Linked DNA regions of Homo sapiens. The protein of the gene in region 1 purifies or fractionates together with the protein of each later gene. This does not show direct contact. Each region holds a gene or a part of one and is shown in the gene's direction. Other genes may lie near its edges.

What was found. The genes of interacting proteins can lie anywhere in the genome.
Region 2: the proteins of HSPB8 (region 1) and EXPH5 purify together in Homo sapiens (affinity purification with mass spectrometry; 3 studies listed by BioGRID and IntAct, with this or other methods). This does not show direct contact.
Region 3: the proteins of HSPB8 (region 1) and VWA8 purify together in Homo sapiens (affinity purification with mass spectrometry; 3 studies listed by BioGRID and IntAct, with this or other methods). This does not show direct contact.

Annotation. Positions count from the first base shown.
Region 1 is NC_000012.12:119,174,894-119,181,953, forward strand, and holds the start of HSPB8 (heat shock protein beta-8), read left to right. Parts: upstream 1-4,037; 5' UTR 4,038-4,419; coding exon 4,420-4,786; intron 4,787-6,273; exon of another isoform or gene 6,274-7,060. UniProt on the Homo sapiens protein: Involved in the chaperone-assisted selective autophagy (CASA), a crucial process for protein quality control, particularly in mechanical strained cells and tissues such as muscle. Displays temperature-dependent chaperone activity.
Region 2 is NC_000011.10:108,590,765-108,598,160, reverse strand, and holds the start of EXPH5 (exophilin-5), read left to right. Parts: upstream 1-4,392; 5' UTR 4,393-4,427; coding exon of another isoform or gene 4,428-4,438; 5' UTR 4,439-4,624; coding exon 4,625-4,743; intron 4,744-7,396. UniProt on the Homo sapiens protein: May act as Rab effector protein and play a role in vesicle trafficking.
Region 3 is NC_000013.11:41,881,106-41,888,129, reverse strand, and holds part of VWA8 (von Willebrand factor A domain-containing protein 8 isoform a precursor), read left to right. Parts: intron 1-768; coding exon 769-933; intron 934-1,299; coding exon 1,300-1,349; intron 1,350-2,101; coding exon 2,102-2,210; intron 2,211-4,638; coding exon 4,639-4,743; intron 4,744-7,024. UniProt on the Homo sapiens protein: Exhibits ATPase activity in vitro.

The DNA of each region.
Region 1 (7,060 bases):
GAATTAATGGTGGTACGCCCCGTACGAAAGCTCTATGAGGATGGCAGCCAAGAGAAACGTGGCTCTGGTTCCCAGGATCTAACATCCTTCCCCTGTACCACAGTCCCCTCTAAGGTCTCTTCTTCCCTGGCGGAACCAGCTTGGAGGCCCCTTCTTCTCCCGGGCCTCCCCTGAGCCTGGCGTCATATTTTCACCTGATTGGTGACAGCCCATGGGGTTTAGTGACCACTTTCCTCATGTGTTAGCTAACTCCTCACCAGGTGGCCGAGTTAGCAGGAGCAGCTGCCTCCCTCCTCAGCTTCCTGAAATGAAGGGCTGACCAGATCCAGAAATGCAATGAGAGCCCAAGGGGGAACAGGACACCAGGCAGTGTGGAAGGCTCGCTGGGCAAGGCTGGGCCAATATTGTCCCATAGTGGTTATTACCGTGCACTGCCAAGTGCGCCCTGGCTTGGATTCCAATCCTTGGTCAGCTGTGTGGTCCAGGGCAGGTGGCTTGACCTCTCTGAACCACAAGGATTCCATGAGGTCATGGATAAAACTGTTGACCACAGGGCCGGGTACATGGTTAGTGTTCAATAAATGTGAGCCATGACTTTGACTTCAGAGGCAGTGTAGCAGATGAGACAAGAACCAAACTGCCCGGGGTTCAAATCCCAGCTCTGCCACTGACATAGGCATGTCAGGTAATCTCTCTGTGCCTCAGTTTCCTCATCTCTAAAATGAGTTTAATAAAACATCCTTCCTGACGGGCATGGTGGCTCATGCCTGTAATCCCAGCACTTTGGGAGGACGAGGTGGGTGGATCTCCTGAGGTCAGGAGTTCGAGACCAGCCTGACAAACATGGTGAAAACCTGTCTCTACTAAAAATACAAAAATTAGCCAGGGGTGGTGGCAGGTGCCTGCAATCCCAGCTGCTCTGGAGGCTGAGGCATGAGAATCACTTGAACCCGGGAAGCAGAGGTTGCAGTGAGCCAAGATTATGCCGTTGCACTCCAGCCTGGGCAACAAGAGTGAAACTCCATCTCAAAATAAATAAATAAATTAAAAACATCCTTCCTAATAGGATTGTGGGGAGAAGTAAAAGAGTTTAGGAACATACATTTAAAGTGCTCAGAACAGAAGCTGGCACGGGGCAAGTGCCCCGTAAATGCCAGTGATTGTTATTTCTATTTTCTACCTTTGCATCCTCCCTTTCGTCCCCCTCATCCTTGAAATGAGAAGGTGGATTAGGTCATCACAGCTCGGTTCCCTGCTCCTTCGCCAGGCTTCCCCTCCTTCCAGGTCCCCTGGTCCCAACTGAGCCTCATTTGAGGCAGAGGGGTCCTCTGGAGGTTTGGGGATGGCCTGGGAAGGGAAAAGGAGGGGAGTTTCTTCCTGAACATACCCACCAGCAGACTCGGCGATAAACAAACACAGACCTATCGGCGCATAAACACAGACTCACTCCTGCACCCACTCAAATCCGCACACAAACTCATTCCACTCTGTCCCACCCACTCAGAAACCTCACCCCAGCCCCTGCCCAGGTCCCAGGCAGGGCCAGGTTTCTCCGGTGCGTCATGCGGCTTGCAGTGATTCTCCCCACAACTGGTTTCCAACTCAGCCAGCCCCGCCCAGCTGTAATTACAGAGAGAGCTGAAGCTTCTGTGCCCAGCCATGACGTCAGCCCGAAGCTTCCAGCCTGATGAGCTCACCCTACATCCAGTGGGGGCCCAGTCACTCGGGACATGTCATGCCGTGGGGTCCCCACCATTCTTTCTCAGCTGGGGAGGAGGGCAGGGGTCTCTGTCTGTCGGTTAAGCACAGATCCGGGATTCAGAACAACCCAGGTTCCCACCCAGGCTCTGCCACTCCATATCTGTGTGCAAGGGTCAAACCTCTGTGCCTCTGTTTTTTCACCTGCAAAATGGGGGTGATGATAATAGTGACGTTTAACTATCGAGTCAGGATTTAACTCAGTAATGTCTGAAATGTACTAACTCTAAAAGCAGACGCACAGGAGGCAATGGGCGACAGTGATTGTTTTTCTCCGTATTATTATTTTTAGCAAACTGCCTCATGCACTCACTGTTTAATATCAAAACAATTTCTCAACCTATGACTCACTGAATTCCTTAATATCCTCAGTTTACCCTCATCTCGTGAAGAAGGCAGGGCTGAGACCCGAAAGCCCACACAGGGAAAACGACATGCCTAAAATTTTCTGCCTGTTGCGGACAGATCAAAGATTAGAACCCAAGCCGAAGAGGCCTCCAAGCCAAAGGAGGATTTGTAAATTCATTCTTCCAGCTGCATGGGAAGAGCAGGAAAGTCTAGATTTGGGGCTTTGAGTTTCAGACCAGACCTCCTGCCTGAGTGTAACATCTTTCAATAATTATCAGTATTAACAGTCATAATAATAATAGAAGCTACTATTCATGAACACTTCTATGGTAGTTTTCTCATCTGTAAAATGGGATAATACTGGTACTCTTACCTCACAGGATTGCTGGTGAGGGTTAAATGAATTCATATTTATAAAGCCCATAGAGCAGGGCCTGGCATATAGCAAACATTATGTAATTGATAACTCAAAATTGAAAATACAAGGAGAAAGAGAATTACCTCATGTATTCTTCATGGTACATCTGTGAGTTGGCTACTGTTATGTCCGTTTATAAGGAGGAAAACTAACAACCTGGAGGTGCCTGGGAATAATGTTACTGCCTATAAAGATGCTTTGATTGACCAAACATTAATCGGATTTCTGAATCTTCTCCTAAGCCCATCAGTGAGGTTCCTTATAAAAATTCAGTTTTGGGCCAGGCGAGGTGGCTCACGTCTGTAATCCCAGCACTTTGGGAGGTGGAGGCAGGTGGATCATGAGGTCAGGAGTTCAAGACCAGCCTGGCCAAGATGGTGAAATCCAACTCTACTAAAAAATACAAAAATTAGCCGGGCACGATGGCGGGTGCCTATAATCCCAGCTACTCGGGAGTCTGAGGCAGAAGAATCGCTTGAACCTGGAAGGCGGAGGTTGCAGTGAGCGGAGATGGCGCAACTGCGCTCTAGCCTGGGGGACAGAGTGAGACTCTGTCTCAAAAAAAAAAAAGAAAAGAAAGAAAGAAAAATTCAGTTTTGGCATGAACTCTGCTAAGTCTGTTTAGTAGCAACCACCCATCTTCGATTTCTGATCACCCTCGATATCTGATTAGTTTCCTCATCCTCCGCGGTCCCCCAGGTGATGTCTGAGCACCCTGGCCTGTCTTCAGCAAGAATCCTCTTAGGTTAGCTGAGCCCGAATCCCTCTGACTCCTGGACTTCCCTCCTAGTAAATTTCCATTCGCTGACCCCCCACCTGCTTCTTGGCTACAAATTCACACTTACCCATGACCTACTGGGAATCAAGTCTAATCTTTCTCCCTCACTGCAAAATCCCATTGCAGGGGTCCCTACATCTATGGAGAAAGTTTCCCTGCCCAGTAAAGTCTTGCTTGTCATACTTTAACAAGCGTCATATGAATATATATATACACATTAAAAAAATTTTTTTTTTCCTTTACCAATCTCCCCAGAGGGCATTGAGGCTCTAGGAGCTTGGCCATCTTGTAAGTGGGGATTGCAACCCAGGGCCATCCTTCAAATCCACTGGGCTCCTGTCTCTCTCTTCCCTTTCTGCAGGTCCCCAGGGGAAAGGCAGGATACGACACGCTCTAGGGAAGGTATTTCCAGAGGGTGACCTGAGCCCTCAGCCAGGCTCGGGGTTATTAATAGCCAGGCCTTAGTGCCCCGCTCGGGGAGGGCGGCTCCAGCTCCTGGAGCAAGAGGAGGGCGGAGCTGAGCGGAGTGGCCAGGGGAGGAGAGAGTGTCCGGAGAGGCCGGCTGAACTTGGACGCGGCCCCTCCCAGCTCCCCCCACAGCCCAGCTGTTCCCTCCGCGGATTCTCCGGGGCTGGTTCATCACCTCCGAATATTCCTGTGACAGGAGACGCTTGCAAAACCCGCCTCCAGCCTCCAGCAGCAAATAAATAGAAGGCTTGCAGCCCAGAAGGAGCCAGAAGAAGTTTCTAGGCGCGCGTGCCCTGGGTTTATTAAGCTCCTGGCTCCGCTCTAGACCTCAGCGGTTCTGGCTGCCAGCCTGGGCAGCCTGGGAAGCCTGGGAGGACGGTGGCTTGCCGGTCTGTCGTGAGGCAGTGCGGACGGGGACCCTCTGGGATTCTGCTGGATCTGCCCCGGGGGTTACCTTTGGGGGCTGGGACCCCAGTCGAGGGGACACAACCGTCCCTGGCAGTGGTTGGTTCTGCTTCTCCCTGCAGAAAAGCAGCATTTTCGGAAGCTGAAGAATAAGCTAGCCCAGCCACACCACCTTGTTGTGTGACCTTGGGCAGGTGGTTCTGTCTCTCTGAGCCTCTGTTTCTCTCTGAGCTGAGCAGCCACCATGGCTGACGGTCAGATGCCCTTCTCCTGCCACTACCCAAGCCGCCTGCGCCGAGACCCCTTCCGGGACTCTCCCCTCTCCTCTCGCCTGCTGGATGATGGCTTTGGCATGGACCCCTTCCCAGACGACTTGACAGCCTCTTGGCCCGACTGGGCTCTGCCTCGTCTCTCCTCCGCCTGGCCAGGCACCCTAAGGTCGGGCATGGTGCCCCGGGGCCCCACTGCCACCGCCAGGTTTGGGGTGCCTGCCGAGGGCAGGACCCCCCCACCCTTCCCTGGGGAGCCCTGGAAAGTGTGTGTGAATGTGCACAGCTTCAAGCCAGAGGAGTTGATGGTGAAGACCAAAGATGGATACGTGGAGGTGTCTGGTAAGTCAGGGGCAGGAGGGAGAGAGAATGGGGAGGCCGGGATGTAGCCCTCAGCCCTGGGAATAGCCAGAGAAAGTTTCCTGGGAGCTGACGTTGGGACAGTGTGACACAGGTGACCTCAGGGCTCAGGAATGCAGCCTGCAAAGTTATCTTTACGGAAAACTTCTCTCCCGGCTCCCAGCAGAGATCTTAACCTGCCTGACTCAGCTATTGGGGCCTCTGGGTGCTCATCAATCATGGTACAGACAGGAAAATAGAAACCATGTTGGATATTTTGACAGAGGGCATTTAATATAAAGAATAGGTTAAGCAGATATCAAAGAATTAAAAAACAAAGAAGAAACGGGATTTTGTGCACTCCAGCATCATAACAGAGTCTAGAAGTGCACGTTAAGGCTGAACAATGATAGTGTTAATAACCGCAACTGGTTTCCGGTGAAACACCTCTCCTTGTCCCAGACAGGGAAACTGAGGCTTACCAGTAATTGTAGTAACACTAACTGGTAACTCTGAGTGCTAACTATTCGCTCAGCACTTTGCTAACTGCTGTTGCCTATAATATCTCAGCTAATACCACAACCAGAGGAGGTGGGTACTGTTTATCTTCTTTTTTCAGATGAGGAAACTGAGGCACGGAGAGATTAAAGTAACTTGTTCAAGGCCACCAAGGAGTCAGACCCAGGTTGTCTGGGAATTAGGAGGCCAGAAAGAAGAAGTGATGATTTACTGAGCACCTACTAGGTGCCAAGGGTGGGCTGACATTCTTATACTTCTCCAAAATCATCCTCAGTCCACTCCAGGGTAGCAGGGTAGGCCCATCTTGCAGCTGAGGAGGCTGAGGCCTAGGTGGGACTCGTTCACAGTCATGCCATGAGTCAGCAATAGGAGTGGAGTAGGGACTGGGCCTATGCACAGCTTTAGGCCCAGGGCTCTCACTGCCGCATCCCACCCTGGGAGAAATAAACATACTAGGGGGAAAAATGAGAGAAGACAGGAAGCTCAGCCCCTGTGAAGCTGGGCAGTAGAAAAATCTTTCTTTTCCTTCCCTCCTGATTAACACTCCATTAAAAAGAATGTGTTCCCGGCAGAGGCTTGCCTTCCAGAAAATCAGTCAAAGCCATTGCAAACACAGGCTGGGCAGGAACAAGCCCCAGCAGCATTCAGGGGGAGTTTCAAGCCAGTCCTGGTAGAATTATAAACATCAGAGGCTCCAGCGGGTGTGGTGGGCTGGGAGACACGCTGGGGCCACGTGCTGATGACAGGGTCAGCCAGATTTCTGAGTTGGCTGGGGAGCAGGGCATGAGTTCCGAAACTGGCTCCAACTTTAACCAGCAGGATGTGCAAATTACTTCACTTTGTGCTTCTGTTTTGTTTCCTCATCTGGAAATTAGGGTTCAAATGGTTATACCATAAGGATTGTTGTTTTAAGTGAGGTGATGCTGTAAAATGTGTACATACCTGTGAACCCAGAAAATCTGAGACAGATCTCAGTTCATTTAGGAAGTTTATTTTGCCGAGGTTGAGGACACTCCCATGACACAGCCTCAGGAAGTCCTCCTGTCACATGCCCAAGGTGGTCTGGGCACAGCTTAATTTTATACATTTTAGAGAGACATGAGACATCAATCAATATATGTAAGAAGTACATTGGTTCGATCTAGAAATGCAGGACAACTTGAAGCAGGGAGGGGTTTTCCAGGTCACAGGTAGGTGAGAGACAAATGGTCGCATTCTTTTGAGTTTCTGATTAGCCTTTCCAAAGGAGACAAACAGATAATGCATCTATGTCAGTGAGCAGAGGGCTGCCTTTGAATAGAATGGGGGGTAGGTTGGCCCTAAACAGTTCCCAGCTTGACTTTTCCCTTTAGCTTAGTGATTTGGGGGCCCCAAGATTTATTTTCCTTTCACATTCTATGACCTGGAACACAAGGAATTAGTATTATTATTGTCGTCGTTATTGTTATAGTGTCAGGCATCCAGGAAGGCCCCAATAAATAATGAATAATAGATGCTCTTTGAAACCTGGGTTCAGATCCCAGCACTGCTGTTCACTAGCATGGCGGATGTGGACGAGAAAGTCTTCATCCCTCTGAGCCTCATTTCTCCTATTTGCAGAATGGAGACCATAATAATATCTGTCCTGTAAGGGTGTAGGAAAGATTAAACATATGCAGACTATCTATGATAATATATGCGGAGTGTCTATAAAATGGAGCTAATAATAGTGCTTGCCTGGCACTCTGTAAACAGACCGATTATCACCATTCCTTCTGT
Region 2 (7,396 bases), on another chromosome or scaffold:
GCTCATATGACATCTCATCATGCGGGTCAGTCTCCAGCCTGACCACTCTGGCTGGAGCCCTCCCTGCATCCCTCCCATTCTCCACCCTGTTTACTTGGTTCACAACACTTATCACACTCTAAATTGATGTTGATTTGTTTATTTATTTATTTTTTAACCTCTATGCATTAGAAGCTAACGTTTTGAGCGCAGGAACATCTTGTCTACACAGCTCCTAGAACATTTCCCAATGGATAGTAGACATTCCATAAATATTTTTTGAATGAAGCCACACATGGCCACTAATTCGTACTCCTTCTTTAGTTCTAATAGTTTTTGTGGTTTTTTTTAACAAATTTCTTTGGTCTTTTTCCTAAGTAGATAATTATCATCTATGATCAATTTTCTCTTTTCTAAGAGTTACACCACATTGTTTTTTTCCTTCCCTATTGTATCAACTAGAACTACCAGAACAATGTTACACAAGACAGGGAATAGCAGGTACCTCTGATTTGTTGTTACTTCACAGACTCACCATTAATTATAATACTGGTGTTGTCTGGGACAGACATTCCTTGCCACATCAAGGAAAAATCCTTTCTAAAGGATTACCAAGTATTTTTAAATTTAGCTCAATTTAGTTTAGTCCTAACAAAAAGCAATCTTGAATTTTATCAGAGAACTTTTGATAATAATGTGTTATTACTTTGATCTAATGATAAAGCAAACTATGTTAATATTTAAATCACCTGAGGTCAGGAATTCAAGATCAGCCGTCCAACATAGTGAAACTCCTTCTTTAATAAAAATACAAAAATTAGCTGGGTGCGGTGGCGTGCGCCTGTAATCCCACCTAATTGGGAGGCTGAGGAAGGAGAATCATTTGAACCCTGGAGGCGGAGATTGCAGTGAGCTGAGATTGAGCCACTGCACTCCAGCCTGGCCAACAGAGTGAGACTCCATCTCAAGAAAAATAAAAATAAAAATAAAAAAATCAGACATTCAAGCAAGTGATGTGATCAGCATGTCTCTTGGCTTGGTGATTGTCAAGGATGGAAAAAACTAAGCCCTGTGGTGGGGATTTGGCCAACAGACTAGAGAGGGTAGGGGACTATGAGAGATTTCTAAAGATCACTGCTTTCTATCCAGCTGTGACTATTAAATACTAAACTGATGAGTATCTCTTTAGCTGAGAGCCTGGGCAAAAGGTTGCCAGGATTACCGGATACTAAGATTGAAAATGGCTGCTTGCCTCCGGCTAAATAAGCCCATAAAACAAACCTTTGGAGAATTATTTTAATTTTAAGAGCATTGTGTTTAAAACTCCACAAAAGCAGTTCTGTATGGTTTCCAGGGCAGTCCCCAATGCCTTGTAAATTTCTCAATATAAAAATTTCTCAATAGTATGCCCCATTGTGCCACAACCCAGGGCTGAAGCATGCCTCAGTGCTGAAGTCTGATGAGGTTGGACACTCAAAGTTCTCAACTCAGCTTCTGCTCCTCATCCTTCCTTTGCTATCTTAGGGTTTTGGCAACCATTTTTAAGCAGACAACTTCCCAGTCTACTTCTCCATCCCTGTTTCAAGAACTTGAGTCCCACATTTCTCATTTTAAATTGCCATGTGGATGAATTGCAGGTACCTCAAACTGCTTGTGCCAAAAACTGAACACCTGATTTCTTGACAAACCTTGTTTCTCATACTATCAAATAGACTGGTCTCCTTTTAGACATCTCTCTTGAGATCTTGCATCATCTTTGCGTCTCTGTCTTTCTTAATCCTCCTTTTTAATGAGTTATCAAATCCAGCCAATATCTTTGGAATTCCACCCTCTTTTTCTACTCTCACTTACATTGCCTTTGGTTGGGTCCTCTTTCCCTTTCTCCTGCATCAGCATTCCAACACAATGGTTTCCTTGATGCCATCTTCACTCTACTCTTCTTGTCTACTGCTATCAGAGTAATCTACCCAAAGTTCAATTTTTTTTTTTGACAGAGTCTCACTCTGTTGCCCAGGCTGGAGTGCAGTGGTGTGATCTCGGCTCACTGCAACCTCCGCCTCCCGGGTTCAAGCGATTCTCCTGCCTCAGCCTCCCGAGTAGCTGGGACTACAGGTGCACATGCTGGGCTAATTTTTTGTATTTTTAGTAGAGGCGGGGTTTCACTGTGTTAGCCAGGATGGTCTCAATCTCCTGACCTCGTGATCTGCCCGCCTCCGCCTCCCAAAGTGCTGGGGCTACAGATGTGAGCCACTGTGCCCGGCCTTAAGTTCAATTTTAACTGTATCATTATCACCCTCAAAACCTGTATTAGCTCCTCAGTGCTTACACAATGAAGTCTAGATTTCATCACATGGCATTCATAGTCAGAGCTCAGCCTACCTTTCAGCTCACTGTGCTCTGAGCACTAGCCCAGTGTTTCTAAACCTCTTTCTCACTACTGTCCCCACAATGCACCTTTTTAGAACTTTTTTCACAATCACCTCCCTTGTGCAATGTTAATACTTCAGATATACTGTGTATCTGTGTATCATGTGTAGATTTGTGCTTTCTACATAAAAAGAGGAAGATTTTACCCCTGTGGAGACTACATGCTCTGCCAAAACAGATCACTTAACAATCCATGAACATGCTCCAGTGTTTTCTAGCTTCCAAGCTTTTGTTCAGTCTGGCCATTAAAGAGGTTGAGGGAATATGAGAAGATTCCTAGACTGTACTTCTGCTATTCAGCACGCTGATCCCCTTGCCTAGAATAGACTCACACATCTCCTCCCACCACCCCCTATTTCTTCCTCTTGAAATCTGACTCTTCATGCAGCAACCTAAATACCGTATCCTCTCTCCATCCACTCAGTTGGCACTAACTTTTCTGTGTGCTCATGGAATTTTCTTTATTCCTCTATTATGTTCTTTTTTACATAGTCATCTTTCTATTTGTGTATCTCTCCCACTGGATTACAAACTTTCTAAAGACAAGGACTGTGTTGTTCACAGTGTGTGATGCCTTCATGTAATAGGCACCAGGATACGTTGGTTGAAATCAGTTCACTGATATACTGGAAACAGTGTAAAATCCCACCAGTGACCATATTGAAAAGTCCCATGTGTATGCTGAATAAATGAACACACTAGAAAAACTGGACACCATATACAAGACATACTCCCAAAACAGGATCATTAATACAGACACTATTTATAAAGGAGTTCTGTATTGTGTACACCATGGGTGAACAAAATTGGTTCCTGGTTCACACAAATAACAGACACCCACAGAAAGTTATCTGAATGGCTAGCTGCCTAGGCATGTTTTAAATAATGATGATCAAATGGGGTAGCCCAGAGAACAAAACACAAGTGGCAATTTTTGATATCATGTTCTTGTACAGATACAAAATTTTAATTGGGTTTATGTGCCATGAAAAGAAATGATATATGTAGAAGTACATTTTATATGTTAGTAATCATCACCACCATCTTCAAAATGACCAAATTAAGGCTATGGGGCAGGAAAGTCAATCTGACAGAGTTATTTTTGGGTAGGAAGTGAAGCCAAGATAAAAACATGTTTTCTGTAAAAGCCTTGATAATTAAAAAAAAAGTATATATGTGAATATCTTTATAAGTTTCTATTATTCTTCATTGCATTGTGGAACAATTGACTTTCTAGGAAAGCTATTTCTGTGGCTTCATAGGATTACCATTTGCTTTCACCAGAGGATTAGGTATTTTTAAATGGCATGTGTATTACTTCTCTGAGTTTATTAAGATGATAATAAAATCTTACAGAAAACTTCTAACAGGTGTTTTCTACAGTCCTTTGCTTCTGGGCTGTCTTCTCCTAAAATACCATAAACGGTTTTGTTTGTTTGTTTGTTTGTTTCTAAAGTCTAAGAATGACTTTTGTGGGACAGTGGAGGTGGGGGTGTCTGTGGGATGAGAGGCTTGGCAAATAATTCGTTTCCAAGGATACACTAATTTCCGCCCTTCAGCCAGGTTCATCCACAGTCAGTAGTGTAATTGAGTTTAGTTCTTCCTGGTCTTTCAGATAAGTAACCCTTTTGCCAGTTACAAACCCTACTTGCAATTCTATTTTCTATGGGCTCTTAATTATTGAAAGGGAGGATTAGTCATGAATCTCCTTTTTCACTCCTTTACTAATCAAGCTCAAGTTCTGCGAGCAAACAGCAACAGCAAAAGCAAATACTTTGGCGCCAACACTTAGCCTTGCCTCACTTAAGAGGCAGAATTATGTAGGCTTGTTTGCTTAACAACTCAGATAGGGGGCGGGGAGGGTGACCGGAGGGGACGAGGGAGGGGACGAGGGACGGGACGAGACGAGGGAGGGGACGAGGGAGGGGACAAGGGAGGGCCCGCCCCCTTGGAACGGGATTGGTTCCCTCTCTCCCTTTAGCCGTTCACTTTGCATCTCGGTTGGACAGGTTGAGAGAAACATGTCATTAAGGTATTGTCAATATGAGCCCTTCAGGTGTGGGCGTTCCCTAGGTTTGTGGTTTTAGACTTTCAAAGGGGCGGACTTATTATTGGCTGTGGGATCAAGTTCGTGAAACTGGTCTTGTACAGGTTGAAAAATGCCTTCCTAACAGGAGGCGCCAAGGAGCTTAAGTGTAACTCACACACAGTAAAGAAAATGACGAAAGTTCCTCCGGCGTTTGATTTCAGTTTCTTAAATGACGAAGAGGCCAGGAAGATCCTTCAGGTGCTGGAAAGGAATGAGGAGTTACAGAGGGCCGAGAAGGACAGGATCAGGTACAGAGCAAATTCATTTCTTTTGTCCTGGGCCTGGGTCCCGCAGGGGCCGGGGATCCGCGGGGAAGGCGCTGAGCTCGCGCGGGGCACCTGCCCGGGGGTGCTCCGAGCGGCTGCTGCGGAGGCTGCGGGTCGGGAAGAGAAAACTGCGCGGAGTTGCTCCCTGAAGGACTTTGGGATGCTTAGTTGGTACCCTCTCCACCCACCACATACCAGACGGGCTCGGCTGCGGGTCTGGGGTCGGGCAGGGTGGGGGGGTCCGTGCGCTGCGGGGGCCGCGCAGTGACGCTGTGCTGTGCCGGGTGTCTGCTGGGCCATCGCGGGGCGTGGGCCGTTTCAGGCAATGAAATGCGGCGGGGGCGCGATCTGGAGAGGAATCCTGGCTGCTGCTCACTCCGCGGCCCGCGCGCACCCACGTGCTCGCACGGGTCCGACAGAGCTTCCACCCTCGCCTAACGCAGTTTTCCCTCGGCACCAGAGGCGAATCTCCCCACCCAATGCGGGCAGTCAGCGAAGCACGGGAGAGCCGGCACCTCACGGGAGGCGAAAGGTCCCCACCCCAAGGGTAGGAGCTCGAGGAATTTGTCAAATAGAGGCTTATGTGGGCGAATGGGACTTGGACACACGGGGTTGGCTGGAATGGGTGGGTCTTCTTGTGCGTGGTGCTGTGGGGAGCGAGTTTCTGAGAAATTTCATCCTTGACCTTACTATACACTGTTGTAGGTGAGGGATTAGTTACTAAAGAATGAAATCCAGAGACACAGATAATTACCCAGGATGTACATTAACCAGTTTTTCTGCTGGGGAAGTGTGGGATAAGTGCTGGAATGAATTAAAGGGACTCTCTCGCCAATATTGGAATATATCCATCTAAGTCCTTCTCTAGATAACTGTGGAAGGGAATTCAGGACATCACTCTCAGACCACACTGTGTGCCATTGATTGGAATTTAGCAAGTCATTTTGTTTTATGATCAACTGCTTGCTAATGCGAGTTCCAGGTTCCCAATTCTTTCTAGAATTGCCTGTCCCCCACCGCCGACAAAAGAAACCCTCCAGGGACCCTCTTCAAATTGGAAAATCTAGTTGGTCTTTGTAGAAAGAATTAGAATACACTAAGCCCAATGCCCTGACTTCACCCTTCTCCCCTAAACATGACTCTTTGAGGGATGAAGGAATATTTGAGGTTGGGGAATATGGATTTCATACCATCTGCCTTGAGAAAAAGTGGCTTTATCATTCCCCTCCCCTGAACAGTGTAGAAAGTGTGCCTTCAGGAGAACAGTATGCCACACCCACACACACCCACGTGCATAATGTACCTACACATATGCACATGCACCGCACAAGGCACACCCAACTTTCAGAAGAAGAATTTCAGAACTGCACGGAATTTCAGTGCATATTCCAAAGGCACTAAGAAACTGCGGTTATTCTCAGTGTGTGTTATTGGAAATGTTTCTTGTCTCTGAAGAGGATGGGGCTTCTTAAGTGATCCATTGTATATTTGGGGAAATTGAGGGGAGAGTTAGAAAATAACAAGGAGAGAAGCTTTCATTTAAGATGTTATCTTGACTTTTTATTTTTGACCTGATGCTTGCTTGCCTTATTGTGTTTTCTCTATTGCAACTCACGATGCCCACTGCAGTTGACTTTAGAGGGAACTGGATCTCCACATAGATCTACACAAAGCACGTGTATCTACACAAAGCCATTGGGCTGGGCATTAGAAGGAAGGTCAAAACACATTTTCTAATTTCATGGCACTCATATTCTAATGGAAGCATCAACAGAAAAAGCCATAATGCTAAGACAAAATCGATACTGTATTATACTAATTATTAAAAGTATTTAATTGCCCAAACAATTTGAAAAATATCACCATTAAAATACAAAAATCATTTAAGGAAAGTAGATGTGTGGACCAAATACCCAAGGCAATGATTTCTAGTACTGTCTTTTCCTTTGATTAATTCCCCACTTCCACTATCAAATACCCATGTCTGGCTTGCAGGCTCCATGGGATTGTTCTGCTTACCCACTTCAGGCTCACATGTATTAATTTCAGTATCAGATATTGGCATGCAGAAAGGGCCTGAGACAACATGGCAACTTGGCTGCCTCTTCTGCTCATTTTCTTGATATGTGTGATCATATTTTCCAAATCAAAAATCAGGACACATGACTTATAACTCAAGAGTATAATTTCATTCTGTTCTGGCTTGGCATATGTGAACAACAACAAAAAAGAGATGCTTCAACAGGCCTGTCTGAGAGACTCAGGGAAGCCTTTTTACTGTATTGAGAAAGAGCTTCAAGACCTCTTGACTAGAACAATAAGGGTCCAAATGGGGAAGTTTAGAAATTTAGCAGGTTGGGGAATGGCTGATGAGTTCATTTATATCTATGATAGGCTTGAGGTATCTGCAAGACAACTAAGAAGAAATACAGGCACCCTATAGTTGGGGCTGGGCCCGGTGGCTCACGCCTGTAATCCCAGTGCTTTGGGAGACTGAGGCAAAAGGATCGCTTGAGGCCAAGAGTTTGAGACCAGCCTGACCAACACAGAGAGACCATGTCTCTACAATAAAAATTAAAAATAAATTTAGCCTGATATTGTGGCACATACTTGCAGTACTAGCTACTCAGGAGGC
Region 3 (7,024 bases), on another chromosome or scaffold:
CAGTCACAATAATGTAGGTGATATTTTTCCTACTAAGAAGGCTAAGGTTCCAAAGGTATAATACCATGCATACGCTAACATTTAGTAAAAGTGTACATCAAGCAGTTGAGCCAGGATTTGTGACTCTAAAACCCATACTGTTTCCATTCTCTAAGCTCCACTGTATGCTAGTTGCAGGACGATGGGCAAGTTATATAACTCCTTTGAACTTTGATTCATTCATTCATATAAAAAGGAGATAGTCTATATTGGATTCTGGTGAAAGTTAAATGAGAAAAATCCATGGAATGTGCTTACCACATAGTAAGTTTCCAAAACATGTTAGTTATTGCTAGTAATATGCTTTGCTAGGAATAACCATAAACATAATTATCTATTTAAGGTCCACTGGTAATCAATCACAGCTTTGCTGGTGATCTGCCCGTCGGGGACTACCTTTGTTACAACCTCTAGTCATGTATTTTCCTTACCCCCTGACTGTTTTCCTCTGTGTTACTGACTAAGGCTTGGAGATCTGACCCAAGTCTCCTTTATTCCTTGGTGTGTTAACTGCTTTTCCTTTCAAACACCCCAGTCTTCATGTTGTGAGCCTGCCCTGGCATCCTGAACCTGATTTCACTTTGCTGCCTTCCTTGACAGTATGGATTTGAGAGTGTTCTCCAATACAGTTTTCTCAACAGTCAAGTCCTAAGTCCCTGGACTTGGCAGCTCTTACAGTTGTGATTTGTATCATTTATGCTATAGCTTCCGGATCTCTTACTTTTATAGGATCATACCAAAAAAGAGTTGGATTCTTGGAAAATTGTCCGAGTTAGTGAAAATTTCCGAGTGATTGCCTTGGGCTTGCCAGTGCCAAGGTATTCTGGGAATCCATTAGACCCCCCTCTTCGTTCTCGATTTCAAGCCAGGGATATTTATTATTTACCCTTCAAGGTAAGTAAGACCAAGGATAATTTATTTGTTAAACAGTTTTTCTATTTATAACAAGAACTTCAATGCTATAAAAATGTTACTGCAGTTTTGAATGTCTTCCTGAGTAGGTCATGGAAAGATATGAGAATAAAGAGTAAAGAAAAGCTCTGGAAACTAGGAAGAAAAATTATTATGGCATTATTTGAAGGATTTTTTTTAAAAGGCTGGCTTTTCTTTTAGAAAATGAAATGTATCAATAAATGATTTTTTGCTGTTAAATATTTAGTGTCTGCTTAATTAAAAGGTTGGATTGTATCTACAAAACATTTGCATTTAATCTGTTACATTTCTTGTTAATTAATTTAATATGTTTCTGTATTACTTTAGGACCAACTTAAGTTGTTATATTCAATTGGAGCCAATGTTTCTGCTGAGAAGTAAGTATATTTTTATAAATGTCTGGACACTGAATATTGAATTTGTTTTGCCTGTTCATTGATTGATTGATTAATTAATTCAGTCATTCAACAACTAGAATTCTTATAAGAATTTTTCAGTATTAGGATGTTTGGTGATAAAATTAATAAGATATCTTTGGCAGGAAACTCAAGATCTAATAGAGTTGAAAGATATGTGAATAGCTTTGGTTAACATGGTATAGTAAGTGCCATAATTTGAAAATATTTGGGGGCATTAGTTGAGACTTTATAAGGGCTTCATAAAAGCATTGGTGTTTGAAATGGGTCCTAAATAATGAGCAAGTTTTTGCCAGATAGAGAGTGGAATCAAGAAATTCGAACACAACAAGTGTTTTTTTTTTGTTTTGTTTGTTTGTTTGTTTTAAAAGCATGGAATGTGAGAGTTTATGCCTTGTTTTTAGGGCCATAAAAAACTCTTGGAGGCTAGAGTTTAGGTTTGGGATTACGAAATGTGAGAGATGAGGCTGGCAGGGTAGATTTGGACCAGGTGGTGAAAAACCTCAAATATTGTGATGAATTTAGGAATATATTTGCATCTAATCAGCTTCTGAGTTTTAAGTAGGATATTATGATGCGGAACCATTGTTCCTTAAGAATTAATATTAGGGATCTTTTTTAGATTAATTAAATTGGCCCCTGTATTTTATATTTAACAACTTACACATTTTATATTTTAAAACTATTAAAATTTAATATCATTTTTCCCTTAGAGTTTCTCAGCTCTTGTCCTTTGCCACAACTCTGTGTTCCCAAGAATCTTCTACTCTTGGACTTCCAGACTTTCCTTTAGATAGTTTAGCAGCTGCGGTTCAAATCTTGGTAAGTAAAATAAATTAATGACTGGCATACCCAAATATGTTAAAAATTTTGAAAGTTAATCATTAGGGATTAATGACTTCAGTTTGCTTTTGTCATACTCTTCTATAAATATTGTAAGGCCTGAGATTAATTTGTTGTGCAGTGCAGTAAACTGTACAGAGACCAAGGACATGTTCTGAGCCCCTAAAGAGCTTTCAGCTTTGGAGTAGGAGCTAGACATGCAATCTCAGTAAAGTTCTACAGAGGGAAGGAAGGCTTTAGCCTGATCAAGTAAGAGGTGTGCTGCAGTGTGAGTTAGGCCTCAGAGCTGTCCTTACCTGAGTTAGGGGAGCTAGGGCTTTCACACTGTTCTAGCTTCCATCAGTCTCTGTGTCATGGTTGTCTCAGGGGACACAAATTCCCAGACACTAACTGCTCTCCCAGCATGTGTGCAAGGGTGGCTTCAAGAGCCCAAGGATCGTCTTCTTAGAAAGACCTACAGCAATTGCTGTTGGAAGAGAAAGCTAGGAGGCACAAGAGAGAATGCAAACAGATCTGAGGGGATCTGATAGAGTACAGACATTGTCCACTACAGTTTCACAAAGGGCATGGCGGTCATGTCTGGAGTGATAAAAGGCCCAGGAAGTCAAAGCACAGGCAAATGTGTTTAATCACAAAAGGGCCTAGTATCTTTGGAGAATGAGAATAAGTTGTATCCCTAAAGCAAGTGTGTGTGGTAGAGGGAGAAGTCAGACCGCTATTGTGAAATGTTTTGCATGATGAATGAAGTTTCCTGGATTTTATGATATGGAAAAAGTGGCTTATCAGACAATATTAAGTTGGTGGGCTATGAATGTGACCAGACTTATGTTGGAGGAAGACACCTTTGTTGGAAGTGAGGGAATGACTAGGAAGCTTTTGTAACACTCAGTGAGACCCTGTGGAGGAGGGCACCATCCAAGATAGTGGGAATACTATCTTAGGCAAGAGACTTATTTTTAAACTTGTATGTATGTATGTATGTATGTATGTATGTATGTATGTATGTATATATGTATGTTTCATGTGAGTCAGGGAGCCTAGGTATTGTTGACATTGTTCTATACATCCAGAACAGAATTTCTCCTCCTGTTTATCAAATCTTATACTTTTATCAAATCTTTTTGTTTTTGCTTAGAACATTTTATTTTGAAAATTCTTATGAAATCTTTTGTTTTTGCTTAGAACATTTTACTTTGAAAATTCTCAAATGTAAAAAAAAGTTGAAAAACAGTAAAACATTCATAATCCCCTCACCTACAATCACCCATTATTAATATATTGCCACATTTGTTTGCATGTGCTTTTTTCTTTTTTTTTTTCCTGAACCATTTGGAAGTAAATTGCAGTCAGTACTCTTAAATACTTCAGTGTGTGTATCAGTTCGTTCTCCCGCTGCTATGAAGAAATACCTGAGACTGGGTAATTTATAAAGAAAAGAGGTTTAATTGACTCACAGTTCTGCAAGGCTATGGAGGCCTCAGGAAACTTACAATCGTGGTGGAAGAGGAAGCAAACACGTCCTTCACATGGTGGCAGGAGAGAAAAGTGCAGAGTGAAGGAGGGGAAAAGCCCTTTATAAAGCCATCAGATCTCATGAGAACTCACTATCATGAGAACAGCATGGAGGTTAACTGCCTCCATGATTCAGTTGTCTCCCACTGGGTCCCTCCCATGACACGTGGGGATTGTGGGAGCTACAATTCAAGATGAGATTTGGGTGGGGACACAGCCAAACCATATCAGTATGCAACTTCTAAGAATTAGGACATTCTTCTACATAACCAGAACAACATTATCACACTTCATATCATGTTAACAGTAATCCATAGTATCATCTAATAGATAGTTCATATTGAAATTTCACTAATCTTTCTTGTCAACAGACTTTTAAAGTGGGGTGAACAGAATTGACAGTGCAGATAATGTGAGGAAGGATTTGAGGATAATGAATACTTTCTAATTTTGTAGTTATAACTGTGAAGCTAAGTGAATGTGGATGAGATTAACTTAGGAATAAAAAGGGATCAGGTACTTTGGGATGAATAAGGTAGAGACATGTATTCTGTTTCAAATGGGGGTCTATGGGATATTCATATAGTCACATGTAATGAACAATTGAGGGTTCAGGTTTAGAGCTCAAGAAAGAAGTCAAGACCAGACATAGAAGTGTGGGAGCCATCAATACATAGAAGATAAATGAAAGATGGGAATGGGTAAGCTTACCCAGAGAAAGGGCAAGGAATGAGAAGAGAAAATAATGAATATTTGCTTTTGTAGACTTACAGAAAATACCAGACACCTATTGGTTACTTTTATAAGTCAATTTTAATGTCATATGTACATTTCAGATGTTTTCTGTGATTATTTTGAATTTTGCTCATTCCTATGTATTTTTGCTCCTACATAGGATTCCTTTCCTATGATGCCAATCAAACATGCAATCCAGTGGCTTTATCCATATAGTATTTTACTAGGTCATGAAGGGAAGATGGCTGTGGAAGGTGTTTTAAAGGTGAGTGTCTGCTTCCCTTTCTTTCCTTTCTTTTCCCATTTTCCCTTCCCTTGCCTTTTCCCATCTTCCCCTCACTCCTTTCCCCACCTTTCCTATTTTTCTCTCCCCATCCTTATTTCTTTCCTTTCCCTTCCCCTCCATTCTTTACCAGGCATGGAGGTATCAGCATTCCAACAAGAAGACAGCTGTGATAAATAGGGCAGCAAACACACAGGGGCTGGTGTGATTGGGAGATTGGTTATGTTGAGCAAATAAGTAAATAGATTGAGCAAATGAATGAATATATTAAGGATAATAAGAGTTATGCTTCTCACTGTTGGATGAGGGATTTATAACCATGGAAAGGGGGAAGGCAAGAAAAAACTCTAAGGTATTGGATTGGAATTGGTGTTATTATGAATCATGACTTTTTTTAAACAATATATATGAACAAATAGATAGAGATAGTATGTGTATATGTATACATACACATATTTTCTAGCTGTCTCCTAAGGCAGCCTAAAAACTATGATGTTCTCATATTTAGTTAAAAAAATAGGATTGCTCTCCCTCTCCCTCTCCCTCTCCCCACGGTCTCCCTCTCCCTCTCTTTCCACGGTCTCCCTCTGATGCCCAGCCGAAGCTGGACTGTACTGCTGCCATCTCGGCTCACTGCAACCTCCCTGCCTGATTCTCCTGCCTCAGCCTGCCGAGTGCCTGCGATTGCAGGCGCGCGACGCCACGCCTGACTGGTTTTCGTATTTTTTTGGTGGAGACGGGGTTTCGCTGTGTTGGCCGGGCTGGTCTCCAGCTCCTAACCGCGAGTGATCCGCCAGCCTTGGCCTCCCGGGGTGCTGGGATTGCAGACGGAGTCTGGTTCACTCAGTGCTCAATGGTGCCCAGGCTGGAGTGCAGTGGTGTGATCTCGGCTCGCTACAACCTCCACCTCCCAGCTGCCTGCCTTGGCCTCCCAAAGTGCCGAGATTGCAGCCTCTGCCTGGCCGCCACCCCGTCTGGGAAGTGAGGAGCGTCTCTGCCTGGCCGCCCGTCGTCTGGGACGTGAGGAGCCCCTCTGCCTGGCTGCCCAGTCTGGAAAGTGAGGAGCGTCTCTGCCCGGCCGCCATCCCATCTAGGAAGTGACGAGCGCCTCTTCCCGGTCGCCATCCCATCTAGGAAGTGAGGAGCGTCTCTGCCCGGCCGCCCATCGTCTGAGATGTGGGGAGAGCCTCTGCCCTGCCGCCCCGTCTGGGATGTGAGGAGCACCTCCACCCGGCCGCGACCCCGTCTGGGAGGTGAGGAGCGTCTCTGCCCGGCCGCCCCGTCTGAGAAGTGAGGAGACCCTCCGCCTGGCAACCGCCCGTCTGAGAAGTGAGGAGCCCCTCCGCCCGGAAGCCGCCCCATCTGAGAAGTGAGGAGCCCCTCCGTCCCGGCAGTCACCCTGTCTGGGAAGTGAGGAGCGTCTCCGCCCAGCAGCCACCCCGTCCGGGAGGGAGGTGGGGGTCAGCCCCCGCCAGGCCAGCCGCCCCGTCCGGGAGGGAGGTGGGGGGGTCAGCCCCCCGCCCGGCCAGCCGCCCCGTCCGGGAGGTGAGGGGCACCTCTGCCCGGCCGCCCCTACTGGGAAGTGAGGAGCTCCTCTGCCCAGCCAGTCGCCCCGTCCAGGAGGGAGGTGGGGGGGTCAGCCCCCAGCCCGGCCAGCCGCCCCGTCCGGGAGGTGAGGGGCGCCTCTGCCCGGCCGCCCCTACTGGGAAGTGAGGAGCCCTCTGCCCAGCCGCCCCTACTGGGAAGTGAGGAGCCCCTCTGCCTGGCCACCACCCCGTCTGGGAGGTGTACCCAACAGCTCATTGAGAACGGGCCATGATGACAATGGCGGTTTTGTGGAACAGAAGGGGGGAAAGGTGGGGAAAAGATTGAGAAATCGGATGGTTGCCGTGTCTGTGTAGAAAGAGGTAGACATGGGAGACTTTTCATTTTGTTCTGTACTAAGAAAAATTCTTATCCTGTTGATCTGTGACCTTACCCCCCCCCCCCCCCCCCCGGCAAAAAAAAACTATGATGTTCTAGTAGCAGTGATCATACCAAGTACCTGGACATTGGTTTCTAAATACCATGCTCTCTAAAAGGATTAGGTCAGGGAATGCAGAAGATGAGCCTGGACCATCTTTTTGTGCCAGAGAGTAAGGAAATATTCAACAAATGATGTCGATATGTCAAAATGATGGAGTTCCCAGGTTGAAGTGGCTGAAATCTGGGACAATTTGAGCATAAAAATAAATGATGATGGTAATTGGTTTTAACCTGTTAC